6 separate regions of the Homo sapiens genome follow, and all the other regions are reported to be linked to region 5. The links are microRNA targets in miRTarBase. Many come from high-throughput screens and were not tested one by one. Region 5 holds a microRNA gene; each other region holds the end of a gene's coding sequence.
The links. The annotated mature microRNA hsa-miR-646 reads AAGCAGCUGCCUCUGAGGC and lies in region 5 at 1,751-1,769, opposite strand. An mRNA with a match to its seed (bases 2 to 7 or 8) in the 3' UTR can be bound and repressed. Matches are read on the target gene's strand: a 7mer-m8 pairs with bases 2 to 8, a 7mer-A1 pairs with bases 2 to 7 and ends in A, and an 8mer does both.

Region 1: the mRNA of ZBTB44 is a reported target of hsa-miR-646. The part of its 3' UTR that is shown has no 7-base or 8-base seed match.
Region 2: the mRNA of LIN7C is a reported target of hsa-miR-646. Seed matches in the 3' UTR shown: 7mer-m8 at 1,312-1,318.
Region 3: miRTarBase lists BTG2 as a target of hsa-miR-646. Seed matches in the 3' UTR shown: 7mer-m8 at 4,418-4,424 and 7mer-m8 at 4,019-4,025.
Region 4: miRTarBase lists PRDM4 as a target of hsa-miR-646. Seed matches in the 3' UTR shown: 7mer-A1 at 1,925-1,931.
Region 6: miRTarBase lists TMEM100 as a target of hsa-miR-646. Seed matches in the 3' UTR shown: 7mer-A1 at 3,922-3,928.

The regions. Positions count from the first base shown.
Region 1 is chr11:130,228,607-130,233,670 of GRCh38, forward strand. It overlaps ZBTB44 (zinc finger and BTB domain containing 44), which reads right to left. Exons shown (of 8, transcript NM_001301098.2): 7 at 4,702-4,776; 8 at 1-3,109. The coding sequence ends at 4,750. Among named protein-coding and RNA genes, the nearest start is that of ST14, 71 kb to the left of the region's middle.
Region 2 is chr11:27,494,523-27,499,598 of GRCh38, reverse strand. It overlaps LIN7C (lin-7 cell polarity scaffold C), which reads left to right. Exons shown (of 5, transcript NM_018362.4): 4 at 31-240; 5 at 795-5,076. The coding sequence ends at 950. Among named protein-coding and RNA genes, the nearest start is that of LIN7C, 9.7 kb to the left of the region's middle.
Region 3 is chr1:203,306,967-203,312,042 of GRCh38, reverse strand. BTG2 (BTG anti-proliferation factor 2) reads right to left here. Exons shown (of 2, transcript NM_006763.3): 2 at 2,441-4,939. The coding sequence ends at 4,605. Among named protein-coding and RNA genes, the nearest start is that of BTG2, 4.0 kb to the right of the region's middle. RefSeq lists a cis regulatory region at 1-358 and enhancers at 3,362-4,304, 4,649-4,888, 4,305-5,076.
Region 4 is chr12:107,729,804-107,734,879 of GRCh38, reverse strand. PRDM4 (PR/SET domain 4) reads left to right here. Exons shown (of 12, transcript NM_012406.4): 12 at 358-2,009. The coding sequence ends at 670. Among named protein-coding and RNA genes, the nearest start is that of PRDM4-AS1, 4.2 kb to the left of the region's middle.
Region 5 is chr20:60,305,227-60,310,302 of GRCh38, reverse strand. It overlaps MIR646 (microRNA 646), which reads right to left and starts at 1,829; the gene lies at 1,736-1,829. All of the region lies in intron 3 of MIR646HG (MIR646 host gene), which reads right to left.
Region 6 is chr17:55,715,996-55,721,057 of GRCh38, forward strand. TMEM100 (transmembrane protein 100) reads right to left here. Exons shown (of 2, transcript NM_018286.3): 2 at 3,632-5,062. The coding sequence ends at 4,671. Among named protein-coding and RNA genes, the nearest start is that of TMEM100, 4.3 kb to the right of the region's middle.

The sequences.
Region 1 (5,064 bases), not on the chromosome of region 5:
GAGAGATGACAGGGCTCCCTTAAAGCAGGAAGATTTATCCTTCCTCAGCAGGTGATGTACTTTGGTAACCTCAACATTCATTTATGGGATGATTTTTCATCTGTTTTATTGAATAATGAAATCTAAATGTGGCTAGATTGGCATTTGGGAAAACAAGGGCCTTTTAATAAAAGTCCTGACACTGGAGCTCCTCCCACCACTAGGCACCAATTTTATCAGTATATCGCCACAACCGTGCCTGGGACTTTAAGCTTCATCAGCAACATCAGTCAATTTAAACGAGAAAGGAACTAATAAAAGAATTTGACTTTATAAACCAGGTACTTTGAACAAAAACTAAAAATTTTAAAGTTAAAAAAAGTTTTGTTTTTAATCCGCAGTCCTTACTCTTAAGTTCTCTGTAAACTATTATGCACACAGAAACCTTGGTATTAGCTGAAGCCGGCCTGGGTCTTGCACAGTGGGGGTTTACTTAAGTAAAAGTAGCACAAACATTTCAAAGACAATCTCAATTTTTCAGATACTGCCAAACCGAGATACCAATAACATCTGAAATCTTTGCAGAGACTATTTATAAAAACATGGAAGTGTTTTTATTTTCCCATCATAAAAATATAATCACGATAGAGTGGAAATGTCTAACTGTATTAGTTTAGTAAAAAGTTAAAAAAAAGTATGACCACTGATGGTACTGGTACTACAAGTCTTCATCCCATAACTGACACAGGCTTAACCCCCCATAAATATTACAACATCTCAACTTATCTATCGTCTAAAATGAAACATCCAGAGAGCGACTGTTCTTAGTTGAGCCTGGGATTGAATCAATTCCACTTTATTGTTTAATCTGAACCATTATTGCTTTTGGCTAATTCATCTTGCTGAGGACTTTCCAAATAAAAATACTCTGTCACCATACTGTCAAGCAAAAACGACAATGAAAGATAAAAATGGGTATAGGCAAAATAAGGAACAACTTAATTTAAATGTTCATAGTTTGAGTTTAAAGCCTGTGGGAGTATGCTTAGTTTTAATATTCCTCATAGACATGTTTGCCACAACAGAGCTTCCTTGTTACCCCAATTTTGTTTCACTGCTTCAGAAAAGAAAATTTAGCTTTTATACATTCATCTCTCAATAACTTTCAAAATCTAAATATATTACAAATAAAGCATCTTACGTCAATAACTTACTTACAGTGAAAACTACATTTATTTATTACCTTCTGGCAACTTTGGGTCTGTTTCTTCTAACTGTAAACTTCACACTAGTTTTTTTTTCCCAGTTAGTATTAATATTTAGAAAATTTTTAATTCTCATTCACTTGGATGTGTATTTCAGAATTACAGCTTCATACTTTGCAGATGACTGAAACAAAGTAACATATGAAAGTTTCTAATTCTTTTGTTCATTCCACAAATCTCAAACTTCAGCTAAAATATTAAAATTTTAGGATTATTCATTCAAGTAATAAGTCTCTGTTACAGAATTGCCACATTATACAGTAATGTATTTTTCAAGGACTATTAAAGCTAAAAGGGACTAAAACATAATCTGAGAATCTTCAAGAATAAAAGCTGATAAAATAGATAACTGGCCTCTATTTAGATTAAGAGAAAAAATTAGAAATAAAAGACTGAAAGATTTAATACAGCTTCCAAAGGCTCCCAAGAGAACCATTTATAAACTGGGAGAGTCTCCTGAACCAGCCTATTAGTTAGAAGGTAACTGAGTTACCAATAATTATGGACATCAGATGTATTGACTAGTCTATTTCATTTGGCAAAGTATTTTAACAAGATGAAAGTTTTTTTTTTTTTTTTTTTTTGCTAGTTATTAAGAACAAAGGGCATGTGTCGTAACAGGGGATCTAATTACTGTAAGCCAGAATGATTGCTGAAATGTCAAAATGTAAGATTGAATGAGGCTATTTAAACATTTTAGTATATTTTGTCTTACTGAAATTGATAAAAAAAAAAAACTGGCAATGTAACTAAATGCGTAACTAATTACTTGAAATAAAAAGATTACTTGAAATTCAAATTAAGAAAAATCCATTTAAATATATTTGTGGGTGATAATCTCCATCTGCATCCATTTATATAAAACTTAAAATGCCAAAAAATAAAGACCAATATTAATCTCTTTATTTCTGAATGAGATGAAATCACTGACATGTTTGATGCTTCCACTATTAGAATATACCCTTTAAACACGAAAAGAACAACTGCAGGAGCTTTAACATCCATTATCATGGGTGAACATCTTTGTTTACTTCTAAAGTACATCACACCTATTTGGTAGTTAAAAAACTGAAAATAAAAGCTTGTACAAAATGCTTGGTTTTAAAAAGGCAATTTATTCTGCATTCTGAAATTTAAGCCCTTTAGATACCACAAAGTTACCCTCCTGGCCTTAAGAAAGATAGCTACGTTTAAGCACTCTAAACTGGAATATTTATGTTTAGTTACACTGGTAATTTCTAATGAATGGGATAATATAACTGGCTATCTCTTTGCAATATTTTCAATATGTCCTGGTAAAAATTATGCATCTAGGCATCCCTAAGATGAATTTGAAATAAACCTAAATACTACTATATATACAATTATCCCTTGCAAATCTGTTTCCTAAAACAGATCCATAAACAGATCCAATATCCTTAAAGTACATATATATCAAGAAAAATGTACCCTCACTGAAATAGAAAAAGGCCTTTATTTGTATCATTTTATGTTAAATACTGGTTAGTTACTGGTATTGATAAGATCTGGGCAGCAGACAACTAACCAGATATGCATTTTCACAGTATATTCAGATTTCCCATAAAACTTGGCAATGTGTATTACCAGTGAAAATCTAAAGTTTCTACTTGGGAAGGAATACCCAGTGATGGGTAATCCCTCATTCTGAGAACACAGTCAGAATATCTTGGAGCTACCAACATTGTGCTTGGCTCTTAATGCGAAGTTTTCAGGGTTGGGGATGTGCTAAAAACACTTTTAACCAATCAATCTGCAAACCATTCTTACACGTTTCTCTTCTTTATTCTTCTTTCCTTCTTTTCTTTTTTCTTTCCTCTTGCTCTTTCAAAAACCACCTCTTGGAACTAAGGGTAACAATGATTCCTGGTCATAATTTTACCTATTCTTGTCAATACAGATTTTAAAATTAATTTTGAGATTTATCTATTGCTAGGCCTAACAGTTTTCAAAGACCACAACGTAACATTAAAATTCCTGACCTTTCCAGTTGAGACACAGCAGTACTATATGAAGTATTATAGTCTGCTGCAGAAAGTAATGCAACCCTATCAGTGAAGAAGCATAAATGGTGGGAGCCTATCATAACCTGTATATGCTGATTCTCCTGAAGGGAACACACCTATGTTTGGCAGCAAATGGGTAAAAACAAGTTCATGAGTGAGGTAAAGAGTTGAAAACAAGTTAAGGACTGCAGAATATGGGCAGACACAGAGAATCTTAACCTAAAACAGTTCTAAGGAATTTAATTTACTTTTCCTTTCTTCACATGTTTTTGGGGAAAAAATTACAGAATTAGCCAATCTAAAAAAATGAAACAAATCACTATAATTAAAAATATATACATTTAGTATGGTCTAGCACCTGAACAAAATTCAGATCTTGTGTTTTGACTAAAGAACTGTATTTTCTGTCTATCAAATCAGGTGCTCTCATAATTATTAAACTTTGGGTATCTACACAGAAACTTATTCCAAAGTTCACTGCTCATGGACTTACAAATATTTAGGATCAATATTAGAGATGCTTTAATGGCACCAGATGAAAAGTATACCCAAGTCTAGAGGATCATACAAATTTCAACTACAGACCAGAAAGTTTCATATTTTTAGCAGCAGAAATAATATTCATTAGTTTAAGGTTTTCAGTTTCTCATTAGTCTTAATAATTTTTTTCTCCCAGATTTATGAGTCATAGATGAAAATCTTACAGTCTATACTCTTCATTGTTGCCTACGTTGTGTAAAAACTATAGTTAACTGTTTTTAATAACTTTGCAATGTCTAAAAATAAATATGTAAGGACAATGTATCGCTGTCATATGGGATTCAGTAAACAATCTAGTTGGGTTAAGAATGCAGCCTTGGCCGGTGCAGTGATCCCAGCAGTCTGGGAGGCCAAAGGAGGAGGATCACTTGGTCTAGGAGTTCAAGACCAGCCTGGGCACCATAGTGAGACCTCATCTCTACAAAAAATAAAAATGAAGTTAACCAGGTGTGGTGGAGCATGCCTATAATCCTAGATACTCAAGAGGCTGAGGCAGGAGAATGGCCTGAGCCCAGGAGTTCGAAGCTGCAGTGAGCTATGACTTAGCCACTATACTCCAGCCTGGGCAACAGAGTGAGATGCCATTCTTTTAAAAAAAAAGAAAAAAAAAAAGAATGTAGCCTCAATAGAGAATTATTTATTATGTCCAAAAGAGCACAATGAAAACATCCCCAACAACACATAAACCTATATATAAAATATAGAATATCTCCAGTATTTTTACTTTATATGGCAGCACGCCAATATATGCAAGAGAACATATTGATGGGGCAGGGGGAAAACTGATCCGGGCAATGACACAGTCAGGCATTACATTCGGAGACCAGGTAAACAGCAATTTTAATCTGAAAAGCAGTATGAGAAGAGTTCCTATGAAGCTGGGATTTACATACTTCATTCTCCGTTCCTGGTCATTTCATCCACAGCTTGACTGTTGTCAATCATGGTTCCTTGCCTTTGGAGTGGTACTATAAAGGTACAGAGAATGCCCATCTCAGTACCAAAATTTCACCATGAAAAATCATAACAGAAATGACAAAGCTTAAAGAAAAGTACGCCGGATTTCAGAAGTATTTACCATAATAATTTTTAAGAAAGCTTACCATAAATACTTCCAAAAACAACAGGCTTTACAAAATATTATACAACATCCTGTGTACAGCAGTAAGTATCTACTCAGGCCATTTGTCAAGCTGTTTAGTAATTAGTTTCTCATGTACCCTCTTGTCTCAAGAAGGTCAATAATCATCTGATTT
Region 2 (5,076 bases), not on the chromosome of region 5:
ATATTTTTAATATGTAAAACTTTCTTTCAGGCTACTGTTGCTGCATTTGCTGCCAGTGAAGGACATTCTCATCCTCGAGTTGTTGAGCTACCAAAAACAGAAGAGGGCCTTGGATTCAATATTATGGGAGGCAAAGAACAAAACTCTCCAATCTATATATCCCGAATAATTCCAGGTGGAATTGCTGATAGACATGGGGGCCTCAAACGTGGAGATCAACTCCTCTCTGTTAATGGAGTGGTAAGGATGAATTTTATTTCTATTTGTAGTGATCTGTTGTGACCACCTGGGGGCGTATTTGAGTAATAGGAGAAACCTAAGAAACTTGTGGTTTAGAAATGCCTTGAGGGAATCCTAGGCAGTACTATTAATACAGTGATCCTTTTTTTTAAGCACTATAAGTGTATTTTGCAGTGTAAATTAGCAGTGCTTAATGTCATTTTTATGACATAAGCTCTTTATTAAAGGCAATACATTAAATTAGAAGTCTACCCTCATTTTACTCTTATAAAATGCCAATTGCTTGATCTACTGAAATAATAAGGCATATAGATTAATATGCTAATTATTTGGAACTTAAAAGCCAGCTTTTAGACTATAAACAGAATATGATGTAAGAGAGGATTTCATATAGATTAAAATGGTAAGGCAGGATTATTTCTTAGTTTTGTAATGTTGGAATAATATAACATTAAAACTTTTCTTCATTATATATATTGTAAACATTTTTGCATTTTGAGTTACTTTCAAAACTTAGATATTAGTGTATGGTTGGTTGTTTTTTTTTCCCCTAGAGTGTTGAAGGAGAACATCATGAAAAAGCTGTAGAACTGCTGAAAGCCGCACAAGGAAAGGTTAAATTAGTGGTACGATACACACCCAAAGTCTTAGAAGAAATGGAGTCGCGCTTTGAAAAAATGAGATCAGCAAAACGCAGGCAACAGACCTAATACATTTCAAAACTTGATATTTCATTTTGCGTTTTAGCTAGAGAAGTTTTCCTTGTGACTTACTAATGGCTGCAATGCCAATGATTGTAAGAAAACAAACAAATTTATCATGAAATTCTCCTTGTCATTTTATAAATGCCTATTTTAACATCATTTATGGTTCCAGAGATGCATACACTTTTTTCTGACAAGAAAAAGTAAAAGGTGATGAGGGCAATTCTGTCCTACTGTTTTTACAGGCCTTTTTCAAATGCAGATTTTGTCATAAAGTTGTTATAGATTTTTTAAAATGCTTTTTTAATATTAAAATGTACTTTTACATTCTTAATCTTTTTTTAGAAAGGAAAAGTTTTCTTCATTTAGCTGCTGATTTAAAAGTAAAGTTCTCCAATTCTTTTTTTTTGCTTACTCTATTTTTTTTAACCTGTGAAATTTCTTTACAGTTTTCCAAGAAATTAAGCATAACAGTCTCATCTACGGCAGTTCATTACACTGTCAATGTTAACATCATTGCTGCATTTTGTACTTTGAACACACACATAATATATATAACCAGTGGTAAATCATGACTCAGTACAGTGCAAGTTTTTTCACTTTTACTTAAACATAATATATAATGGATATTCATTTATACTGATTTATGAAAGTAAGTTTTTAAACACTGAAACAATCATTGCTAAAATACATATTCTTAATATTTGAGCATTGAGGCAAGAGGATGTAATTGATAGCATTACTTATTACATCCCTATTTATGTTCAACCGTACATCAAATTATAAATGCAAAACAGGTTCAGATTTCATCTTTTGTGATTTCTTTTAAATACTATTCATTTTTATTTAAATGCACAGTATTTCCCCTATATTTTAGTCCTTCCATTCCTAGAGACAAACCAGTTATTTGGTGGTGGGAAGTAGCTGAAGCAAAGAAGGAAAAGTAATACCTTTAACCTCACTAGCTTCAAGAGTAGACATTCTTACTAGCTCAATTTAAATAATTGATTTTAAATAGGAAGAAAAGAGGATATATTTAAGATACATAGAAATTATGATGTGAAGTATTCATGAGAATCTGTAGATTCCATCAAAATAAGTAGGAACTCATACTAAAATTGTTGGATTTAAAGAGGCAACTTTTGTTTATGATTCAAATATGGGAATTTGAGAAATATTTCATTTGTCCACTGGATGTCACTATTTTACTAAAAGGCAGCTATTAGTGTGGGACTGTGACTGAGGTCTTAAAGACTGAAAGAGTTGGGGTTCATTTTCTGTTACAACTTACAGGAACATTTGTACTTTAAGAAAAATTTAAGTGACAAATGTTAGAAGATGATGGATTGAAAAATATAAGTAATTTGGCATATTGACCCTATATAAAAAAGTGGGCATTTTGTAACATTCCTTCAGGAAGAATAGAATTGTATGCTTTTTTCTGCATGTTTGTGATCACTGTGAGTCTCAGATGATTATTCCAGTTTTCAATGATTTTTCAAAATAAAAGTCAATCAGCATTGTTATTTATCATTAAGGTATTGAACACTGGATTGCATGGTTGAATGTGTCTTTAATCCACTACAAAATGTGCTTGTTATTGATAGGATCATGTTGTTAAATTGTAAATTTTCAAAATTAATTGATGTTTTAAAAATGTTGAGACCAAAGTAGTATAGAAGTATGGACTTAATTTAATTGTAAAATTATTAGAGGTATTTGTTGTAGAGCTTTATATATTAAAGAGAGGTATTGGTGCATATAAAAACAGTAATATTATTGTTATGCTTGTATTCTTGCATTTCAGGGTAAGTAAACCCTGAAGAAATCTTATTTTAGTATAGCTACAGCTGCAGTAGCTTTTAAGTATGTATCAACATTTCATTATAAATTATAGCTTCCTGGTTCTGTGTCTCAGCTGTTTCAGAACTTTCAGCCAAGTTAAATCTTTTTTGGTGTTGAAACTTTTAGTAAGTTGAGTAAGCTATTTTTTTCCCTACGGTAATCCACAATCTGTTCTTTGTGTGGGTTGACACCTATTTATAATTCTTAAAATAAGGGTAGCTCAAAGGAGCCAAGTACAGTAGTTTAGCTTGCTACTGTTGAGCATGAATAGCAGTAGGTTGTTTTCATTAATGCAGTTTTCATAATGTATCCCAGAATTTTAAATCTTGACCATAGAAAAATACAGTCATTCATTGGCAAAGATGTACAGTGGTGGTTTAGTGCAGTGAGGAAATGATGGGAATTTTTATCTTAGAAATGGATGATTCGTGAATAAAACTAGGTACATAGTAAGTGTATGATAGATGTTTGATTTGTAAATTACAAATATAAATTATCACCCCCATTTCCATTTATTTTCTTGATATATCAAAATGTGTTGACTTAGTGATTCTCAATCTTAGCTACATATTAGCCTGGCAGAGCTTTAAAAAATTGATACCTGGGTCCTATTCCATAACAACTAAATCAAAATCACCCTTTTTTTTTTTTTTGTAAAGCTTTCCAGGTGGTTCTAAAGGACACCTAGGGTCAATAACCCATTATAAAATGATCTGATTACACTGGACACTCTTAGGAAGTATCAAAATAGAACAGTTCAATTTGCAGCTACTTAATGATTAATTACATTTCTTAGGTTTTTTTTTTGTTTTTTTTTTGGTTTGTTTGTTTTTTGTTTTAAAAGAGACAGGATCTTGCTTTGTCTCCCAGGCTGGAACACAGTGGTGTGATCATAGCTCACTGCAGCCTGAAACTCCTTGGCTTCCACCTCAGCCTCCCAAAGCATTAGGATTATAGGCGTGAGCCACTGCACCTGGCCAAGTAATTTCTTTTAGGAATAAAAGGTACTTGGCATTCCTTATTTGGGAAGTAATTACAGTCTTATCTTTTTTTTTCTTTTTTCTTTTTTTTAATAAAATCTACCAGTAATTTAAATGTGAGCTTTTTATGTCTGTCATCATTCTGCCCCCTTTGCCTTTAAAACTTACAAAAATACGTGTTTGTTATTTGAGAAAGCATGTTTAAAAATTGCAGATGAGAAATATTGTCGTTAATAATTATGTACTGTCTTAATGTGGGCACTTCATTTGTTAGTATAATACTAGATAATAGCAGCCTAGTTCTTTAGGATTTGACGATTCAAATTTTTTTTTTGTTTTTTGTTTTTGTTTTTTTTTGAGACAGAGTCTTGCTCTGTTGCCCAGGCTGGCGTGCAGTGGTGTGATCTCGGCTCACTTCAGCCTCCGCCACCTCAAGGCAGTTCAAGCAATTCTCCTGCCTCAGCCTCCCGAGTAGCTAGGACTACAGGCGTGTGCCACCTCTCCCGGCTAATTTTTTTGTATTTTTAGTAGAGACGGGGTTTCACCGTGTTAGCCAGGATGATCTCGATCTCCTGACCTCGTGATTCGCCCGCCTCGGCCTCCCAAAGTGCTGGAATTACTGGCGTGAGCCACCATGCCCAGCCTCAAATATGTTTTTAAAAAATATCATTGTCCTCCTCCTCTTAAGATTTTTTTAAGTTATTTTGCTCAAGTACTTAAGTAGTCTGGCTCAAGTACTTTGTTTACAATTAAAATGGATATTATAGCATTTAATAGAAGAAATGGTTATGGCTTATCCAAAAAGAATGTCAGCATGACCTGGTGTAGACTTAAAAAACTACATGTTTGTGAATATTTTATAATGTGGAATGATCATTGAAATATCAAGGATTCTAGTAATTGTATTTCCTGAATAAATGTATGTTTATGAATTTTCTAACTTACATTTTGTTGTGTCCTCTGCCAACAATCTGGTTTTATAATTGTTGTCTAAAGTTTGCTAGTAGTGTTTCTTCAAAGGTTATTCCAGGTATGGTTAAGTAGTGAGAAAAATCACTTATTAATTTTCAAGAACTTTGAGACTAATTTGTATTGACTCGGTTTTTTAAAATAACTGGCAAATGCTATGCTTCTACTTTTAAAATTTGTGGTAATACCCAGAATGGATGTAAAATAACATTTTTCAATAGATTACTTCATTTATCAATTTAATTCTGATTTTAAGGCTTATTTAAAATAAATTTGTATGAGTTATGTCCTCGTTCTTTGGATTTGAAAAAAGTTGATATAACTACACAATAGATAAC
Region 3 (5,076 bases), not on the chromosome of region 5:
TCAGGATCCAGGATGGGCTCTTAATCTGCAGCATGCAGAGCCTTGTCTACACTCTCTGGGGAGGTGCATTATCATTCAAAAACAGCTGACTGACCACAGGTCTCCCAGGCTGGCACTGCTTACCAAGTGGAGAAGATGGAAGCAGAACAGACCAACCAATGCCTAGTCCCTGAACACATGAAAGCCACCAACTGCAACTCTTCAAGCAATTTCAGGCCAGAGCCCCTGTAACCCCAGGTAGCCAATGGGTATGCTCCAGTTCTACTGAAATTGGTTCATATCAAAAAAGAAAACACATTGCTTGACCACAGAACCCTCTCATGTAAATTGAGGGACTACTAGTTTACCAACAGCCGAGAGTGGCCCTGAGGTGAATCTGCCATGCTGTGGCTTCCCTGACTTGAAGACACACGTGGGTGAAGGGTCCCCTCAGTCTCCAGACAACCTTCCCCGAATTTCAGGCTTTCCACTAAACAAGGAAATATCCTTCATGAGCTAGGCCTTTTAGGAATCAGGAAGATAGATGCTGACTTTGTACCATACACTCAAAAGAGGGTGGGCAAAAATTCCTCAACCCTAACTAACCCTGTCCTTACATCCAAAAAAGTAGGTCTTTTTAAACAAGTGTCTAGGACATTTATTTCAGAAGCTACAAATAAAAATGGGACTACTCCTTTCAGTAACAACCCCTTGATACAATGAGTCTTAACCAAATTCTATTTATGATACAGATGACCTGGCCTTCCCTAACCCCATCCCTGGCTCCCCTACCCTCCTCACTCAACACAGGCATAGCACACACAGCCTCCCTGGGCTACTTCCAACATAGCACATCTAGGGAAAACTGTATGTTTGTTGATAAAGGTCATGGAGGTAAGAAATGAAGTTGGGGGAGTTGTCACTGTATATGAAGCAACATGTGTAAAGTTTAGTTTAAATACAGGTCACCGCCAGCTGCGGTGGCTCACACCTGTAATCCCAGCACTTTGGGAGGCCGAGGAGGGTGGATCACCTCAGGTCAGGAGTTCGAGACCATCCTGGCTAACATGGTGAAACCCCGTCTCTACTAAAAGTACAAAAATTAGCCAGGCATGGTGGCAGGCATCTGTAATCCCAGCTACTCCAGAGGCTGAGGCAGGAGAATCACTTGAACCCGGAAGGCGGAGGTTGCAGTGAGCCAAGATCGTACTACTGCACTCCAGCCTGGACGACAAGAGCGAGTGAGACTACGTCTCAAAAAAGAAAAGAAAAGAAATAAATAAATAAACAAATAAATACAGCTCACCTACAGCCAAGAAAAAACTAGACCAGGCTGGGAATGTACTTGCCCTCAGTGGGAAACTCTGGGCTTGTGTCAAAAATCTCATGGAAAGAACTCAAAAGTCAGGGAAGATAAAAACTGTTATTTCCTTGCATGTAACCAAAGGGAGTTACAAATTGGTAACAAACTTTTGGCTCTCACTCCAGTGTTTGCTGTCAGAAGTAGCTGCTCTCTAGCTAACCTGTAGCATTGGCATTCAGCTCCAGTGCATAGATCCTGAGGCCTAGCTGCTCTTGTCTAACAAGACAAGTATGGTGGATAGCAAATGACAGCCCCAGAGATGACAAGAGCACCTTTTCTGGGAATTGCCAACAATCCTGCCTTAGCCTGGGAAGGAGTTCATTACCCGCTGCTTACCAAACCCTGGTCTGTGAGACAGGCTGTGTCTCAAGGATTTTTAATAAGTTCAGTGCCTAGCACTTACTGACAATACATGCTTGCTAAATGAATAACTGACTGAATGAATGAATGAATGAAATGAACGACTATCAAAAACAAGATGCATAAGATGGAGATCTGGCTAGACTAGGGAATGTTCAGACTAGAACCCTGTTACTTCTAGCATCTTCACAGGGAAATTAGAATCCTCATTAAAGGTGGAAGTAGGTTGGGCGCGGTGGCTCACGCCTGTAATCCCAGCACTTTCGGAGGCAGAGGCAGGGGGATCACTTGAACTTAGGAGTTTGAGACCAGCCTGGACAACATGGCAAAACCCCGTCCCTACAAAAAATACAAAAATCAGCTGGGCCTGATGGCACATGCCTGCAATCTCAGCTACTCAAGAGGCAGAGGTGGGAGAATTATTTGAGCCCAGGAGGCAGAGGTTGCAATGAGCTGAGATTGCACCACTGCACTCCAGCCTGAGTGACAAAACTGTCTCAAAACAAACAAACAAACAAACAAAACGGAGGGAAGTAAGGAGCTACTTTCCAGGAAAGAGGGGATGCTTGGAAATGGCCCAGCCATACAACCAGATTTTTCTTTTATACCACCCACATGCTATAGATTGTCTGAGTGCAAGTGAGGAGAAATACTATTAAACACAAAGAAAGGATTTGGATCTGAAAGGGAAACACAAATGTACAACGTGAGGATTTTAACTTCTCTACACCACACAAGTTTATCCTACTACATTTTTATTAAAGTAACAAAAAGGTGTACATTTGTCCATAAGCTGTACATTCTTCCATATAAAAACACTATCATACAATTAGTAACCTTTGTCTTTTCTGTCAGAATAGCTTACAAACATACTACTACTATTTATTTTTACTTAATAGGAGAGACAGGCCTGCTCAACAGTCCAGCTCAGGGGTTTTGTTGTTTTTAAAGTGAACATCATAAAGAAGAGAAGAGAGACAAGATTAAGCATGAGACCATGAGGCTGCTTCTAAAAAGGCAGGGACCTGTTTGCAGACAAGATGCAAGAACACAGCCTGCAGTGATTCACAGCTTTGTTTCAACCCACAAACCAGAAAATTAGCTCTTGGGTCTGTGGGCCCAAAGTGAACTTTAAAGCAATAAAGACTGGAAGCAGGTCTGGGAAGGCAATACAAAATGTGGAGAGTTGAAAAGGAGGCAGAGCTGGCAGGAATGGGTAGGGAGAGTGTTTGGTAAATAGCACCTTTGAGTCAAAATTGAGCAGTTTAGAAATCCAGGAAAGGGGACTGGCTGTGGGGAGGAGAACCTGGGGGTAGAGGAAGTGGGGTGAAGATTCCTCACTAAGGGGCAACAGCAGGAGGGTGGCCATCCTGGCCAAATGCCCTAGCCCTGTCCTTCTTAAGGTGATTCGGTTTGGGAAACTCGAGGTCTTTTGAGGACCCCTCATCAATGTCACTGAGAAATTGAAGGAAGGGAGTTTCTTCCCAGTGTAGCTTTCCACTTTTCTCCAACCCACAACAGTATATATTGCACAAGTCTACGACAAATTTGGATTGTACTGAGACAGACAGCAACCTTTCCCACAGGTGCTCTGAGCACCAGGGAGAAAAAACAGTGCCCAAGGTTTGGCTTTTATTTAGTGTCGGCCCTACAAGAATACCAAGTAGTCTTGCAGAACATGGGGCACTCTCCCATTCAGCCAAGGAATACATGCAAGGCTGACTAGCCAGCCATCATCCCAAGGAGAGCAGGAGAGATGGTTCCCTAAGCCCACCAGGGCATCAGGAGGTTCTGATAGCCAGTTTTCCTCCAGACCCTCCTGGGACCCAGGGGGCATATTGCACAGTGACTGAGAACTCTTGTCCTAGAAAATACGGTAGCTCTATGACCCGACCAGAAGGGAAGGGGGAGGGGAGGGTTAGAGGAGAGTTGTGCTTTTGAAAAGAAGGCAGTAATAAAGGACCTGGAGTTCCCTGTAGCTTTTGAGCCACCTCTCAAAGGGATCATGGCAGCAGCATCAAGACTTTCATGTGGTTCCAAAAGGAAGAGTTTTGGCCAAAAAACATCCCCAGTGGATACTCTTTGGGTCCCAAAATTTCATTGCAAATCACCCCCAAATTATTTGCCACACATACACACAAAGCAGCACTAGCAAAGCAAAGGTTTTGTGCAGAGTTCCCTTCCATCCTAACCCCAATAACCTCCAGTTCCCTCCTCCCCCCCCTCAGAAAACCCAAAGCTTTAGATTCCTGGCTGGAAAGCAACATCTACAGGCCCCTGAGGGTAGAATTAGAAACAAGTCATGATTTCAAGAAAAGCAGCTTAGGACAGTAGGAATCAGGAGAGGCCTTTTCACTCTCTGCCCAGGACCTCATTAGAAAAATAAAAGAAAAGATAACATAGTATTGTTTAAGTCCAGGCATGAATGCCCCTGAGTAATAGAGGAGCCAGGGATGCAGGTGTCTGGCTGGGGGAGACAGAGAGCTCTGAACTTGGCCTCTCTTCCTCCCCCAGGGCAAATCCCGACCTCTCTGTTCACAGTTGCTAACCTTGCTTGCTCCCTCTCACATCTTCCTGGGGTGCTAGCCAAACGTCTCCCACTTCTCCTTGGCTAGGTCTACCCCCTAACAGCTCCCCCTCCTATAGGCAGACACTGGCTCACAGACTCAAGCACGCAACAGTTCTCTCCAAAGGCACCTGGGGAGGCCACTTCCAAGCAGCTCCCTTGAAGGATTTTTTTTCTTAAAAAAAACTTTTGGTTTCTTTTCCTCCTTTCTTAAAAAAAAATAATATATATAAATAGCTCTTCATTTAAAAATACAGTTCCCCAGGTTGAGGTATGTGGTGGCCTGTTGTCACGGCAGCATGAGCACGGCGGCGCCCAGGGCGGGGGCGGAAGGGCCTAGCTGGAGACTGCCATCACGTAGTTCTTGGAGGGGCTGCTCCGGCCCAGCAGCACTTGGTTCTTGCAGGTGAGGAGCCCACAGGAGGCGGCCAGTGGGGCCTCCTCGTACAAGACGCAGATGGAGCCGTCCTCCCCAATGCGGTAGGACACCTCATAGGGGTCCACCCACAGGGTCAGCTCGCTGGGCAGCAGCTGGTGCAGCTGGGGCTGGCTGAGTCCGATCTGGCTGGCCACCCTGCTGATGATGGGGTCCATCTTGTGGTTGATGCGAATGCAGCGGTAGCCGGAGCCCTTGGACGGCTTTTCGGGAAACCAGTGGTGTTTGTAGTGCTCTGTGGAGACAGGACCAGGGGCAGATGCCCTGGTTAGAGCAGCTAGGCCATGGATACTACCATAGGGCGGGGTGGAGGGTCAAGGGACAGGAGGAGAGAAAGGGGCCCTTTAAGTAAGGGAGGTGGATTCCTCTGAG
Region 4 (5,076 bases), not on the chromosome of region 5:
TGGTGTATTTGTATATTTGTAAATAGTATACAGCAGTGGAAGGGAACAAACAACTGATACAGCAGCTTGAATGAATTTTATGAGCATCATACTGAGAGAATGCAGCAAGACAAAAGAAATACATATAGAATTTACATAGAATTTGAGAATTTACATAGTATTCTAAAACAGGAAAAATGAGCCTACACTGTTTTAAACTATACATGTTTTATGAGTCTTCTGTATATCACCTATGCAAAAGCCTGATTCAGAAGGATAGAGCTGCTCTGACAAAGGCCTGCGGCTATGAAGAATAAGTGTTGCCTCAGTTGTTATTTGTAACCCCAAATCAAATGTTTTTTCTTGTGTTCCTCTTAGAGAACGCCAGATCAAGTGTCCCAAGTGTGATAAGCTGTTCTTGAGAACAAATCACTTAAAGAAGCATCTCAATTCTCATGAAGGAAAACGGGATTATGTCTGTGAAAAATGTACAAAGGCTTATCTAACCAAATACCATCTCACCCGCCACCTGAAAACCTGCAAAGGGCCCACCTCCAGTTCGTCAGCACCAGAGGAGGAAGAAGAGGATGACTCAGAAGAGGAAGATCTAGCAGACTCTGTGGGGACAGAAGACTGTAGGATTAACAGTGCTGTGTATTCAGCGGATGAGTCTCTTTCTGCACATAAATAAAAGGAAAAGAAACAAGCAATTTTGGATGAAAATGCAAATGGAAAAATACACATAACCAGTTATCTACTATAATGGTTTTTATATAAAATGGTTCCTGATTTATTTTCAGCCAGTAATCAAAACAGACTGGGAATGAATAAAGCACTTACAGAAGAGTATCCTAATGAAAACACTTTAAAACAGATTGGGAAAACTGAGCATGTGTCCTGTTTTAAGTGGTGGACTGGGAGGGAAGTGTCAACTTCTGAGGTCTTTATTTACATGATAATCTGGGAGATGCATTTATGCCTGAATCAAAGCTGCCTTCTGCTCAAACAAATCAGATTTATTTCACATTCTTCCATTATTCCATTTTCCTGCTGGTCCTGTGACTTGGTAACATTCTAAACGGTCCTTGCCCCATAGCCATCCTGATTGCTGATAGTGTTTTATGCAGACTCTTGTGACTTATACTCACCACAGAATGGATTGGGACACAGCAGCATAAGTGTGCTACTTGGCAGCTAGTAAGTTTAAAGCAGGACCTGCCTTAACTGCTCCTGGCCACTTGGAAGTTTAGGGTAGATCTTGTTTTCCAAAGTTTCGGCAGGTGCCTGGAGGGCAAATAAAAAAGCAGCAGTCAGTCAGTAGTCAGTGATGGAGAGAACAAGAGGAGAGATGCCTGGCCTCTGCCCAAGAAATTAGCTTTGATGGAAGCCTGAGCAAGTCACCTGGTTATTGTAACGTGGAGATCTTTGTAGGTTTAGACATGGCTCCCTGTCTCCAGTAAACATCCAGCCATTCAGACAAAGGGGGCCTGGAGATACAGAGAGCCCAAATAATGCCTGCTGGATTGTCTCCTGATGAGTACATGTGGACTCACCTGAGGAAGGGAAGGAAGGGAATAATCTTTTATGTTTCATTTACCTTATGAAAAGTGTTAAAACATTGCCAACTCAAAATAACATTATTTAATGCATGTGCAAAGTTAGGTCTTCCCAGTTGTCTCAGTGCTGAGGAACCTCATCAGAGAAGCATGGAAGATGCCAAAGGATTTTTGGAAGGTAAAGAAGGCTGAATAGTGACCACATGGGCCTGTTTTCAGGGTCCCAGCTTAGTTAAGTCACCCATGCACCTGGTCATTGTGTCTCCCATGCACATCCAGCGTTTCTCAGAAGCAGACCCACCCTTAAGTTGACAGGATTGATGGAACATGCTCTCCTGCTCAAGGCACAACCTCTGGGCTGGAGTAGAGGACTCTGGTGGGAAGGTTTTGCTGCTAATGTATTTATGGAATGAATGTATTTCATTCAAATCTGTATTCCTCTAGGAAGGATTAAAATTAAACTTTTTTAAAATACAGGATTCCTCTGGTAGTCTCATTTCATGGAGGAAGGAGATGAGTGAGTCTTCTAGGGAAAGTCAAGTACAATTTGAATCTTTCTGAGGTTAGAAGAAGAGAGCATTTCTAGAGTATTTTAGCTTTTGAGATCATATTCTTATTGTTTCTGCTGTTAGTACTTAAGACAAACTGCTTCCTGTGCTTCCAACCCTCTTCTGCCCTGTTCCTGCCTAAGGTATGCCTTTACTCTGTTACCTCCTTGGAGAAATGTGGCAGGTCTGCAGTGGAGGGTTGGGGGATGTGTTGCGGATGGTTAGGGTTGGCTGCTGACACTGGGTCGTGACGCCTCCCTCAGGGCAGCTCTGGTTCCTAGGGCAGCTTCAAACTCAGCATTTTGCCAAAGGCATCCAGCTGGCTGGTTCCCCCATACCCAGGAAACCACTGGTACTGGGACTCTAAGCTCCCTTTCTTCCTTTATCTCAGTAGCACACACTGGGTTCACTTCCTTCATTCCCAAGACTGAAATGATGCCCAAGATAGTTACGCCTAGTGTCAGAGGAACACAAACAGCAGAGGAAGCTTGGAAACCTTTTTAGTGAAGTTGTAGCTGTTAGTGCTTAGTATTTACAACTGTCTCTCCATTTTTTTACCTCTTAATTTTAAATTCTAAGTCATTTTCACAAGATGAATAAATAAGTAAGTGCCCTTTGACATGAATGTTTTCAGCCTTTTCTGCCCATTTTGGGTGGCCTTGCTGCTGTTGAGTAAATGGTCACGGTGAGAGGCAGGATGTGTATGTAGGCTCTGGAGCCCTGCAGAATGTTCTCTAGTGTGGGCTTTGCTGTGTGATGAAGGTTTGTAACCTTGGCCAAGTTATGTAAGCTCTCTATGCCTCTTCCCTTAACTGTAAATGGAGAGTATTAAGAGCGCCGCTTCATTATACTGTTTAGATGTTAAGTTCATACGTGTCAGTGGCTCCCACAGTGCTCAACATAAACAGTAGCTGATATTCTTTAGTTTCCCATTAGTCTACATTTTTCATTTTAACATAGGTTTCTACACTAAAAAAAATTGACATATAGAATATCCAAGAAGCTCTAGATTTTAGTAATATAAATAAAACTGGAATAATTTGAGTTTTCAAGGCCAAAGCCTATAAACTAGTTCAGAGTATTCTTGCAGCTCACTGTATGCTTGGCATTTCCTTCTCAAAAAGGTCAGTGGCTCATAATCCTGGCATTTTTGTTGTGCTGAGATTCTCAGAGGGCAAAGAGGTAACAGGAAGTAGAGTCTTCGTCAGCCTTTTCACGCTTGACCTGTGTCCCCGCTTTCTAGTAAACACTCCTTTACCTGTGTCTCAAGAAGCATAAACATGCCAGAGGCTGTCAGCACCTCATCAAGTATGTAAACTTGATGATCTGATCACCAAACTTGGAGGCACACACTAAGGAATGACATATCTCCATATACACAAGTGATTATGGTCTGTTACAGGTGAACACACCGCCCCCTGCCAACACCACCAGATTCATATGGTGAAGTCCTAACCTCCAGTAATCTCAAAATGTGATTGTAGTTGGAGATACGGTTTTTAAAGAAGGAATTAAGTTAAAATGAAGTCCTTAAGTTAGGACCTAACCCAATATGACTGGTGTTCTTAGAAAAAGAAAATTTGGACAAAGCCTTATACAGAGGGAAGATGATGTGAAAACAGGGAGAAGACATTTCCAAGCCCAAGGAAAGAGGCCTGGAACAGGTCCTTCCCTCACAGCCCTCTGAACAGTCCTGCCATTGCTTTGATCTCAGACTTCCAGCCTCCAGAACTGGGAAACAATACATTTCTGTTTAGTCTTCCCGGTCCATGGCAATTTGTTGTGGCAGCCCTGGCAAACTAAACAGTCTAACCAGATATACGTTCTTGATAATGATTGCTTAAAGGGGAGCAGCTTCCAGTATAGTGACTTCAGTTTAACCCCAGCTTTACAGATTAGCATGAGCAATATAAAGGCAGGCACCATTTCTAGTGGTGTATATTGCCGCCAGCAAATTTCCCTACTACTGAAAGGGGTGAAACCACTCCTTAACAGCTTTTTTGCTCCTTAGCTTTTCTTGCATATGCACACTGAGGATCATTAGGCACTCAGGCCTGTGTAGTCCTCAGACAAGGAGAGTGGTCTTTTCAAAAACCATTTATTAAGTGCTGGTACACTTTAAGGCATTGTAGGGGGAACAGAAAAATAACTAGGGCTCTGCTCCTGCCTTTGGATACAGGTGATCTGCCTGCCTCCGCTTTCCAAAGTGCTGGGATTACAGGCATGCGCCACCGTGCCTGGCCCAGGCTACAAGTCTTTAAAGGAAATCACATAAACTCTAAACTATTCCATTTAGACAATGCATATTTATATCCACAAGTTAGGGAGCACATGGAAAGCATGCTTTGTTCTTTGTGTTTTCTGCCCCCAGCACCTGCCTCCTCACCCTGCAGCACATCTTGTGCTGCTACATACTTGCTGAGGCTCAGGCTGGGCATGGGCTTTGGGGTTGGGCAAGCATCAAGATCAGTTTAGGGCCAGATTTGGGAAAGAAAAATCACCTAAGGTGAAAGTCACTTACTTTGGGAAATTTTACTTCTTGAATGATCTGTTAATTGGTTAATAGACACAACTTCTGGCCCCTCTTAGCTAGCACTGCCTAGGACCTTGTGACACATTTGCTTGCAAATATGCTTTCTAGTGGTAGTACATTTTAATTTATAGTTTTACTCCTCATAGGGCATTATAAAAGTAGGCTTTACCCTCAGTTGTCTAGATGTTGAAAATGAAGTTCAGAAAAATTACACTTTTCACACCTGTAATCCCAGCACTTTGGGAGGCAGGTGGATCACTTGAAGTCAGGAGTTCCAGACCAGCCTGGCCAACATGGTGAAACCCTGTCTCTACTAAAAATACAAAAATTAGCTGGGCATGGTGGTGGGAGCCTGTAAATTCCAGCTACTCAGGAGGCTGAGGCAGGAGAATCACTTGAACCCAGCAGGCGGAGGTTGCAATGAGCCAAGATTGTGACACTGCACTCCAGCCTGGGCAAC
Region 5 (5,076 bases):
GCACCCGGCCATGTGGTCTTTCATGTTAGAGAACCAACCCAGAGATTGAAAAGAGCCATCACCATGTCCCTTGAGGTAAACTGCCTTGAGATCTCAGAATGGGGGAAACATTACAGAAGAAACCCTCTCTTGATCAAAGAGGGGTGAAAGCTGCATGTCGTAAGCATGAGTCTAATGCTGGGAGCTGAGGGCTTTGACACACGGTTGCCCCCTTCTGATTCATATGGAGCCCCCAGGACTCAGGTCAAGAAGCTGGGTACAGGTCCAGCACCCCCACTTCCTCAATCTGGAACCGTGTCCAATTTCTTCTTGCATCTCAACTTCCCCATCTTAAACTGGGAATAATACGTATTCCAGGATAGTTTGAAAAATTAAATGAGAAATGAAAAAGTATAAGCTGATGACCACTGTTGTCCTGTATCGTCTCAGCTGGCAGGCACAGCAATGTGTATTACCCTTTCACACATTTGACTCTTGAACACCGTGGGGGATTAGGGGACCAACTGCTCCACCGCCCCCTGCACAAGTGAAAATCCACAAGTAACTGTTGACTCCCCAAAAGTTTAACTACTAATAGCCTACTCTTGGCTGGAAGTCATACTAATAACCAACAGTTGATTAAAACATTTTGTATGTTATATGTATCCTGTGTTCTTGCAATAAAGCTAGAAAAGAGAAAATGTTAAGAAAATAAGAGAAAATGGATTTTCTCAATTCATATTCTCTATTCATTTTCTCTATTCATATAGATTTTCTCTATTCATATAGATTTTCTCTGTTCATATTCCACTATTCATTAAGTGGAAGTGGACTGTCATAGGGTCTTCATCCTCATGGTCTTTGCATTGAGTAGACTGAGGAGGAAGTGGAGGTGGTCTTGCTGTCTCTGGGGTGGCGGAGGTAGAAGACCACCAGCATGTAGGGGGACCCATGCAGATCAAGCCCCCTGTTGTTCAAGGCTCAACTGTAATTGCTTTTTGATCCATCTGATGAAAAAGGCTCAGTTTCAGAATAATGTATCTTTGACACCTCACTTTACTCATTTATCTTTTCAGTAAAGAGCACAGTCCTTGGACTCAGATCCTTTGATAATTAATATTTCATAAAGATGCATTCCCTTTTTATTGTATTAATTATTCCTTTATCTCCTATTAATACAAATGACACTGGCTTTCCATCTGTGTAACTGGTTCCTTTTGAAATAACTATTTCAGCTTAACAAGTCAACTAAGGTGACAAAAACTAGATCATAATAGAGACAATACTTAGACGTAGCAAAATTGCAGGGAAGAAATGCAGTGCCAGTGGATGTGGCCAAACCCTCAGAGAGGAAAGAGGCTGAGGCTGGACAAAGGCTGATGTTGGCGACACGTGTGGGGCAGCATCAGACGTGTGAGACTGCGTGTTTCTCGTGTGTGTGTGTGTGTGTGTAGAGAAAGAGGAGGAGAGGACCCACACCAGAACCAGATGCTGTATGGGGTGGAAGGGGTGGACAGGCCCCGCATCCAGGCAGCCTTCTCCCTTCCCCTCCACCTGCATCAGCTGAGCATGTGAAGTCCCCCTGGCAGGCCCCCGTGCAGGGACTCAGGATGCAAATTGGGCCCGAGGTGGAGGTGGAGGGGTAGGTAAGATCACCTCCTGCTTTGGCTGTTTTCTTCTTCCCGCTGGCAGCAGGGCAGGACCCTGGGCTGCTGTTCAGCTACATTCTGACCTGCATGCATTGGGGTAAAGATAGGCCACTGAGCCTGAGGCCTCAGAGGCAGCTGCTTCCTCTCCTGGGATCACAGGTGAAAAGCAGGTGTGCTGACTCCACTGGCAGACTCCTGATCTCCAGGCTTCTGAACTGTCCTGGCTGTGGTAGTCAGTGCTGTCCTGGCAGGTTTGCTACACAGTGCTCGAGAAAACCCGGAGCCAGCCAGAGCCCCTCCTCAGCACTTTCAACAATGACCTGTAAGCATCTGTTTCCCGGTCCTGAATCCCTTCCTGCTTGACCCAGCAGAGGGGCTCTGTGTCATGAGTGAACTCTGACAGTCGCCCTACCCCTCTACCTGGTGCGTGGAAGGCAGAAGGAAGGACAGAATTGTCATGACAATGTCATCTCCACCGGATCCTGGGTGATTTGCTCAGGGCTTAGGAGCGTGTGATGACTTACACCTGACCCATCCCTTTACCGCCTATAGGAGATCCCTATCCTGCGTCTTTTCACCTTCTTGGCAGTGTGCACCAGGCAAACCCTGGCCGATTAAAGCCCCCAGGAGTCCTGCCCTCACCTGCACACCTGTCCAACTAGAAAAGGCCAAGTGCACATCTCCCTCCATCCCTGAGGGTGGAAGTTGAAGATGCCATGACAAACATTGGGTCTTCTTTTTAAATGAATTTCCTAGCCTTTACCAATCCTCCCCGCCCCCCACAACAAATTTTAAAACCCCTTTTATTTATTTTGAGAAGAGAGTCTCACTCTGTCGCCCAGGCTGGAGTGCAATGGTGTGATCTCAGCTCACTGCAACCTCCGCCTCGCAGGTTCATGTGATTCTCCTGCTTTAGCCTCCTGAGTATCTGGGACTACAGGTGCCCGCCACCATGCCCGGCTAATTTTTGTATTTTTAGTAAAGACAGGGTTTTGCCATGCTGCCCAGGCTGATCTCCAACTCCTGGCCTCAAGTTATCTACCCTCCTCAGCCTCCCAAAGTGCTGGAATTACAGGCGTGAGCGATCACACCTGGCAAAACCTCTTTTATAAGCTAAAGTGTGAAATCATATTTCACAAAGAAAATACACAGGTAGGCATAGTTTCCATAAAGAAAGAGTGAGGGAGGAAGAGAGAAAGAACTATGACCAGATTGCAAAGGGCTAACAGAAACTTGATTTTTGAGACGGAGTCTCACTGTGTCGCCAGGCTGGAGTGCAGTGGTGCAGTCTCTGTTCACTGCAACCTCAGCTTTCTGGGTTCAAGCAATTCTCCTGCCTCAGCCTCTCAAGTAGCTGGGACTACAGGCGCTCACCACCATGCCAGCTAGTCTTTGTATTTTTAGTAGAGACGGGGTTTCACCATGTTGGCCAAGATGGTCTCAATCTCTTGACCTCGTGATCTGCCCACCTCGGCCTCCCAAAGTGCTGGGATTACAGGTGTGAGCCACCACGCTCGGCCGGGAACTTAATTTTTTTAGCACTATCAGAATAACCCTGGCTCCCTGCTCCCTCTGGTTTGCTTTGATTAACATTTCCAGGACAAGTCTATGGAAATAACCAACCCCAGGCCCTGCTTAGCCTATTTATTTTCTGTAGCAACTGTGGCATTGGCTCTACAGGGTCAGATTCGTAATTAGAACTCCTTGGGTGGCAGTCTCTGTTGCTACTGCAAATACATTTATCAAGCAACACGATGTTATTTATTTCAACTCCCATTTGTTTCTTGCCACAATTTCTATCTGGAAGGAAGGCCTGGCTGTTCATTTTGGTGGGAGAACTCAATACAAAGTTAATTACTAAAAAGAAAGAATATAAAGAAGCCTGGAGACTATCCAGGACATTTCTTCCAAAACACATTCCAAGGCAACTGGAACCAAGCAAGAGAGGCTCACAGTGCTTTGAATAAGGGAAAGAGGGCACGAGGAGGGACCAGGACAATCTCCAGATCTTGCCAATCCTCGTTAGGGACCGATACACAGAAAATGAACGGCAGGAACAGGGAACTGGCTGCTTCTCACACACTCATCATTAAGGCGCTACAACAATTTTTTTCTTCCGTTTGTTCCTTCTCTCTTCACACTCTAGGAACTGCAGGGGCAGAGAAATTTAGCTGTTAGTTTTCAATATAATTGGACTTCGTTGTGGTGTGTGTAATCCCCTCTTCCCTGGTGCTGGGAGGTTTATCTTGAGGCCACTGCTGCTCTGGTGGAGTGATTGGGAACTATGTAAATATATTTTCTCTCCAGGGAAGCAGTGTACTTTTGAAGGGCTTAATAACAGACACAAAAGGCTGGACAATCTAGGAATGGACTTGGCCATGGATTGGCTCTTTCCTCCTTCCCTCCACCTTATCTGGTAATGGGAAGGTTTTAAATAGTGCTGTGTAATCCACATGACTGAAGTTGCAGAATGTGTCTTACAAGGACATCAGGTTGCAGGCAATTATCCCACGAAAATGGATTTAATTGTTGTTCATATTTGTTGCAGTAAAAATGGAGCAGCGAAAATATCGATGCTGTCTATGCACCAGGAACGGTCTAGGCATTTCTAAGGCTCTGAGTGAGCATCTCTGGTACTTTCGATGCCTCTCACCGATCTCCTGTGCCCCTCACGTAGACAACATACAGCCGAGATGTGAGGAAGCTGCAGAGGGAAGCCTTGCAGAAACCCTTGTGAAGACAGATTTTGGATGACTGCATCAGAAGGGTTATTCCAGAGACTTGGCATTGGGACTCTCAGTGTGGGGGAATTCAGTAAAAATCAGGAGATTGTCTGGCTCCCAACGCCCAACGGCTAGCTGCCTTGCACATAAGAGGCTACGATTAAGATGTGGGAATGAGTGAAATAACCAATAATCAATAATCTAGACTCCTGGCTTAATGCTAGATTCAAAGGAATCCAGAAGTAGGGAGATAGAAAAGATGCAAGTGAACTCCGAGACGGCCTTAGATGTAACACTTGAGTTGCCTTGGGCTAAGTATGAAGAAAGCCAGATATTGTCTCCAAATTATTTTATCTTTTTGAGACAGGGTCTTGCCCTGTCATTTAGGCTGGAGTGCAATGATGTGATCATAGCTCATCCACTGTAGCCCTGGCCTCCCAGCTCAAGCGCTCCTCCTGCCTCAGCCTCTCCAGAAGCTGGAACTACAGAAGCATGCCATCATGCCCAGCTAATATTTTATTTGTTATTTTTGTAGAGACTGGGTCTCACTTTGTTGCCCAGGCTAGTCTTGAACTCCTGCCATTCTCCTGCCTTGGCCTCTGGTATCAATGAGTCCTCTTGTACAAGACTTGCCTTGAACCAAACTGTGTGTTGCAAGGTTGACACCTACCAGTTCAGAACCTTCTTGGAGGTTTTTGGCAAGTTTTCCAAACAGTAAGCTCTTT
Region 6 (5,062 bases), not on the chromosome of region 5:
CCGTTAGAGGCTGGCTACCAAAAATACTATCTTCAGTCATTAAAAACTAGAAACTATCCAAATGTCTATCAACAGTAGAAAGACTAAATAAATGATACTGTATTTGTACAATGGAATTCTACACAGCAATAAGAATGAACCATTTATAACTACGTACAACCATATAGATTGTAGCTCATAAACATAATGTTGCAAGAAGAAGCCAGGAACAAATAGTATACTTGATACGATTCCACTGATGCAAAGTTAAAAAACAGGCAACACAACTCTGGGTGTTAGAGGCCACATAGTGGTTTCGCCTGGAGAGATACTGATGGAAAGTAGATACAAAGGGAGCTTTTGGGTGCTGGCAATATTCAGTATCTTTGTCTGGATGTTAATTCCACAAGTTTATAAAAATTCATTGAGCTGTACAACTTTCTCTGTGTAAATTATACTTTAACAAGAGTTTTTCAAAAGTAGATGTTGTAATACCTGTATTGTCTCCTTTTGCTAAAGAGACATTCTGGAAATGATTTTGGTTATGGCTAAGCATAAAACTGGGTGCTATAGGCTGGGCGTGGTGGCTCACACCGGTAATCCCAGCACTTTGGCATGCCAAGGCGGGCGGATCACGAGGTAAAGAGTTGGGGACCAGCCTGACCAATATGGTGAAACCCTGTCTCTACTAAAAACACACACCAAAAATTAGCCAGGCGTGGTGGCGGGCACCTGTAGTCCCAGCTACTCAGGAGGCTGAGGCAGAAGAATCACTTGAACCGGGGAGGCAGAGGTTGCAGTGAGCCGAGATCGCACCTTTGCACTCCAGCCTGGGCGATAGAGTGAGACTCCGTCTCAAAAAAGAAACAAACAAACAAAACAACTGGGTGCTATAGACTGAATGTCTGTTCCCTTCCACCCCCCAATTTATATGTTGAAATCTCATCTTCAATGTGGTATTTGGAGGTGGGGCTTTTGGGAGTTTATTCGGTTATGAAGGTGAAATTCTCGTGAATGGGATTACCACCCTTGTAAAACAGGCCACAGAGAACTCCTTTGCCCCTTCTACCATCTGAGGGCACAGCAAGAAGGCTTCACTTATGAACCAGAGAGTGGGCCTTCCGCAGACATGGAATATACTGGCACCTTGATATTGGACTTCGCAGCCTTCAGAACTGTGAGAGAGAAACATTTCTGTTGTTTATAAGCCACCCAGTCTATGGTACTTTTGTTATAGCAGCCCAGAGGTTTAAGACACTGGGGCAACTACAATGTGTGGTCAACCTATTGTTCCTGGTGCTAGGCCTCGCCTGCTGTGAGATCTTAGCTGAACAGTCCCTTAACCTCTCTGAACTATAGTTTCCTCAATTGTAAAGTGGAGTGAACACTTATACTCCCAGCCTCAGAGTGTGGTGAAGAATATCAGGTACAGTTGAGTGCTGTTACACTATCGAGCACTATAATATCAAGATCTTCCAAGTTCAGAACCGTAATACTTGCCTGGAGACCAGAATATGTATCGCCTATTTAACATCTCTCTCACCTGTATTCCTCTCTTTCTCTTTAGGGATGGTGGGGGGGAGCGGGTGATGGAAAGTAGGTTTGAGGCTTTGTGATCTGGCTCTCTGGGGTTCATCCTTTGGCCTCAAACTTCTGTGCTATCACGTGATCTCCTTGTGCAGTTTCTCCAGGCAGGATTCCCTAGATTAACCAAGAGAGTAAGATGGGGAGCAGAGCCACCATACAGCTATGATTCTCACCTGGGCCAGAGACCAGCTGCACAGAACAAGGTTAAAAGTTGTTTCTGTGCACTCTGGGATGTCTGTGTTTAGGGGGAATTCCACTAGGTGATATAGCTGGTTTCTGATATTCTAGGGAGGAGTCAGATTATCTTTTTAATACATTTATGCATGCATTTTATATGCATTCATTTATTTTCTGTCGCACCTGCATATTTGTATATAATACAACCATTTGTAAAGATAGACCTTACCCAATAAAAACATTTTATGAGATAATTGTGATAATTTGTAATCCCAATTTGAGTTTATTCTCCTCGTGGGAGTTGGGGTTCACAGTGTGTAGAACTATCTCTGCGCCGTGCAGCTATGTAACAGTATATACCTTTTAATGTGACTAGAAGCTCCCTAAATGGAGCAAGTCTTTCCCGTACTAACAGAACCCCAAGATAGCCACTGTGAAGTGGCTTAGGGAAGTGTGTAAGGGTGGGATAAATGGAGAATCTCCACCAACTCCTCACGTTTAGGAGAGATTTGATCCCATTTTGGTTATTACAATTTAGGTCTTTCCATAGAACTGTTTCTTCTGGGACTCAAGTAGCTGCATGGGGCCCCCTGGTGGCCGGAAATAATTCATGAGTTTGCTTTTCAAGCATTTTGAAGGCCAGGTCAGGCTAGAGAAGAATAGAGAGTAAATATTCGCCTCCAACTGCTGCTTACAGTGGAGGTGTAATAGAGAGTGAGATGGCCTCTTTGGGGGAAAAATGAGAACTAAACTTTTTTCTTTAACGAGATTAGAATGGACTATAATTCTGGATAAACCATTCACTTTCTGATTTTTTATTTTTTGGCTCATTTAGCACCTTAATTAGGTACTTATTGAGTACTTAATCTCCGTAAGCCATTATGTTAGGCATTTCACTAGGGTTAAAAAGAGGATCTATCACACACTTCTAAGGAGCTTTGGAATAAGGATAAAACTTATGCCACCAACACGACAGAAAATAAAAGATGCCATCAGAGAATAAAAGATGAACTCACGAAAGGGCATTTACTTTCAGATAAAAGGGAAGACTTCCGGGAAGAGGTAGCATTTGAGCTGAGTGCTGATGAGAAGCAGGATTTGGGGAGATTAAAATCAAGGAAACAATGGCACTATAAGCGAGGGAAAACACAAGTTTGGACAGACATGGAGGCAGGAAAACCAAAGTCGGGTGCAAGAATGGTGAATAGTCTATTCTGGCTAACTCATAAGGAGGTTTGGGGATTAGAGTGAGTATGAAAACTGGATACGTCCTTTTGGATCAGACTGGAGAATCTTGAACCTTGTCTGAGTAATTTCTTAATACAGCAATGCGGTGGCGGGGTGGGGGGTGGGCTTTGAGTATCTTTGCACGGAGAAGAGGCATGTGAAGGCACAGACTCACTTGCATTGAAATGAGCACAGCCCCCTAAACTTGCATTTGGTTGGGAGGAATGTTGATCTGTACGTGACACCATCTGACCTGCAAAGTCATTTTTAGGGTGTTTCCACTTACCAAAACTACCTGAGCATGAGGGAGTAGTAAGGGCCCCAGGGCTCCTGTCATGTTTAATTAAATTTCTGGACAGAAAGACTTTCAATGAGTGTGCTATGCTAGGCTGATTTTGTTTTCCAAGTTTTAAGAAACCTTCATGCCTATCTTTCGATTCTAGCTTAAGGTGGTTTAAACTACATGAATGAGCTGTATTTCTGGCTGGAGTTACAGGGTAGAGTCCTAGCTGTGGACTAGCTCAATGTCCACTGAAGAATTCAAGCAGTAACTTTATTTGCATTGTATTAGATCTAACTGAGTAAGAAACCTGAGAATCTACATTATGCCTGGCATATAGTTGGTGCTGGCATACGTGTTAAGCAAATAATTAACAACTGATTCCACAAAAATGTAATATACATTTAATAGCACATTATAAAGTTCCTGACCAAAGACGTTGATTTCCTAATTATAATAGCACAGAAATCCTTTAGAATTTAGTAAACGTAATTAAGACTATTCAGAAGTAATGAAAAACCAATATGATAAAAACAAAAATCCTCCAGTAAAGAAGGAACCTGTCCATTTGAGAGAAATACAATTGAGAACTTGCAAATGAGACAAGGGAAGATGGCAATTTGGAACTGCAATAGAAATAACTATAGCAGAAACAACCATTTAAGAAGTTTTAGCAGCAATAAGTATTTATTATTCTGAATGAAATGTACAGTTGACTTTTATATAAAAATCATCAAAAGTGCTATATTGGATTATTTTACTATTAATTTAACCCCCAACAGCATCTATTAGCTATAACTTTAATGGGTTTTTCTTTACTTCTGATACATCATTACAACTGGCTAACACTGTCCAATGTTAAAATATAAAAAATATTACTTTTCAAGATAAAGTACCACCAGTGATGAGTTATTAAAAGTATAAAATGAAAACAGACGCCAGTGAATCAATGTATTGAAAAAAATTATCACAGAATTTCATAGACATATGCGAAACCCAAGGTAATTTAGATCCTTGGCAGAACATTTTTATGATACATCTTAAGACTGTAGGTTATTTCTTTTGGAGGCAAATGTCTAGTGTGCCAGGCCTATCTTGATTTTTCTCATCTTTTCTTGGCTACTTTACAGGGTGAACCAAATACTGTCTAATGCTGTGCACTCCCATGACCCCCAAAGTGTTTCATGTAAATAGAAAGCTGATTTTTCAGTCTCAGAAGTAGCCCTTAGGGTTAAGTTTGTCGTTAAAGAAGACATGAGTCATTCCTCACAAAGGAGAAGCCCCTCCACCCTCCCACCCCCATTCTTCCAGTCTGCTCCAACGCCAAGTCTGTTCTCTCCCACCATGGTTCTGGGTGAATTGGGTGACAAAGTCAGAGCACGTTTTCCAGGCCCAATGGCCCATTTGGTCGTATTCAGTCTCAAGCAAACAAGCTTCTCTGATTTGCCACGAGAGCTGTTTGACTCTCCCGTCTCTTGGCTTTCTTGCTCCTTTGTCTCACTTTCCAGCACAAGGCACTGGAGGCTAGTAAAAAAAGTCCAGATGACAGAACAACCAGGCCAAAGATGGAGATAATAGACCCATGGGAATTGAAGCTGTAAGCCACCGCGGTGACCACGATGCCGGCGATGAAGACAACCACAGCAAAGGGGATGATGCAGCGGTAGCAGGAGAGCTCGGTACCCCCTGTAGCAGCCATCAACTGAATCTCACTGACCAGAGGGACTGTGGTGATCACAACTTCACTCTTGGGGCTCTTCTCCATCGTCGCTGCCATGTGAGCCTTTGGGGCTCCCAGGATCTCCTTGATGG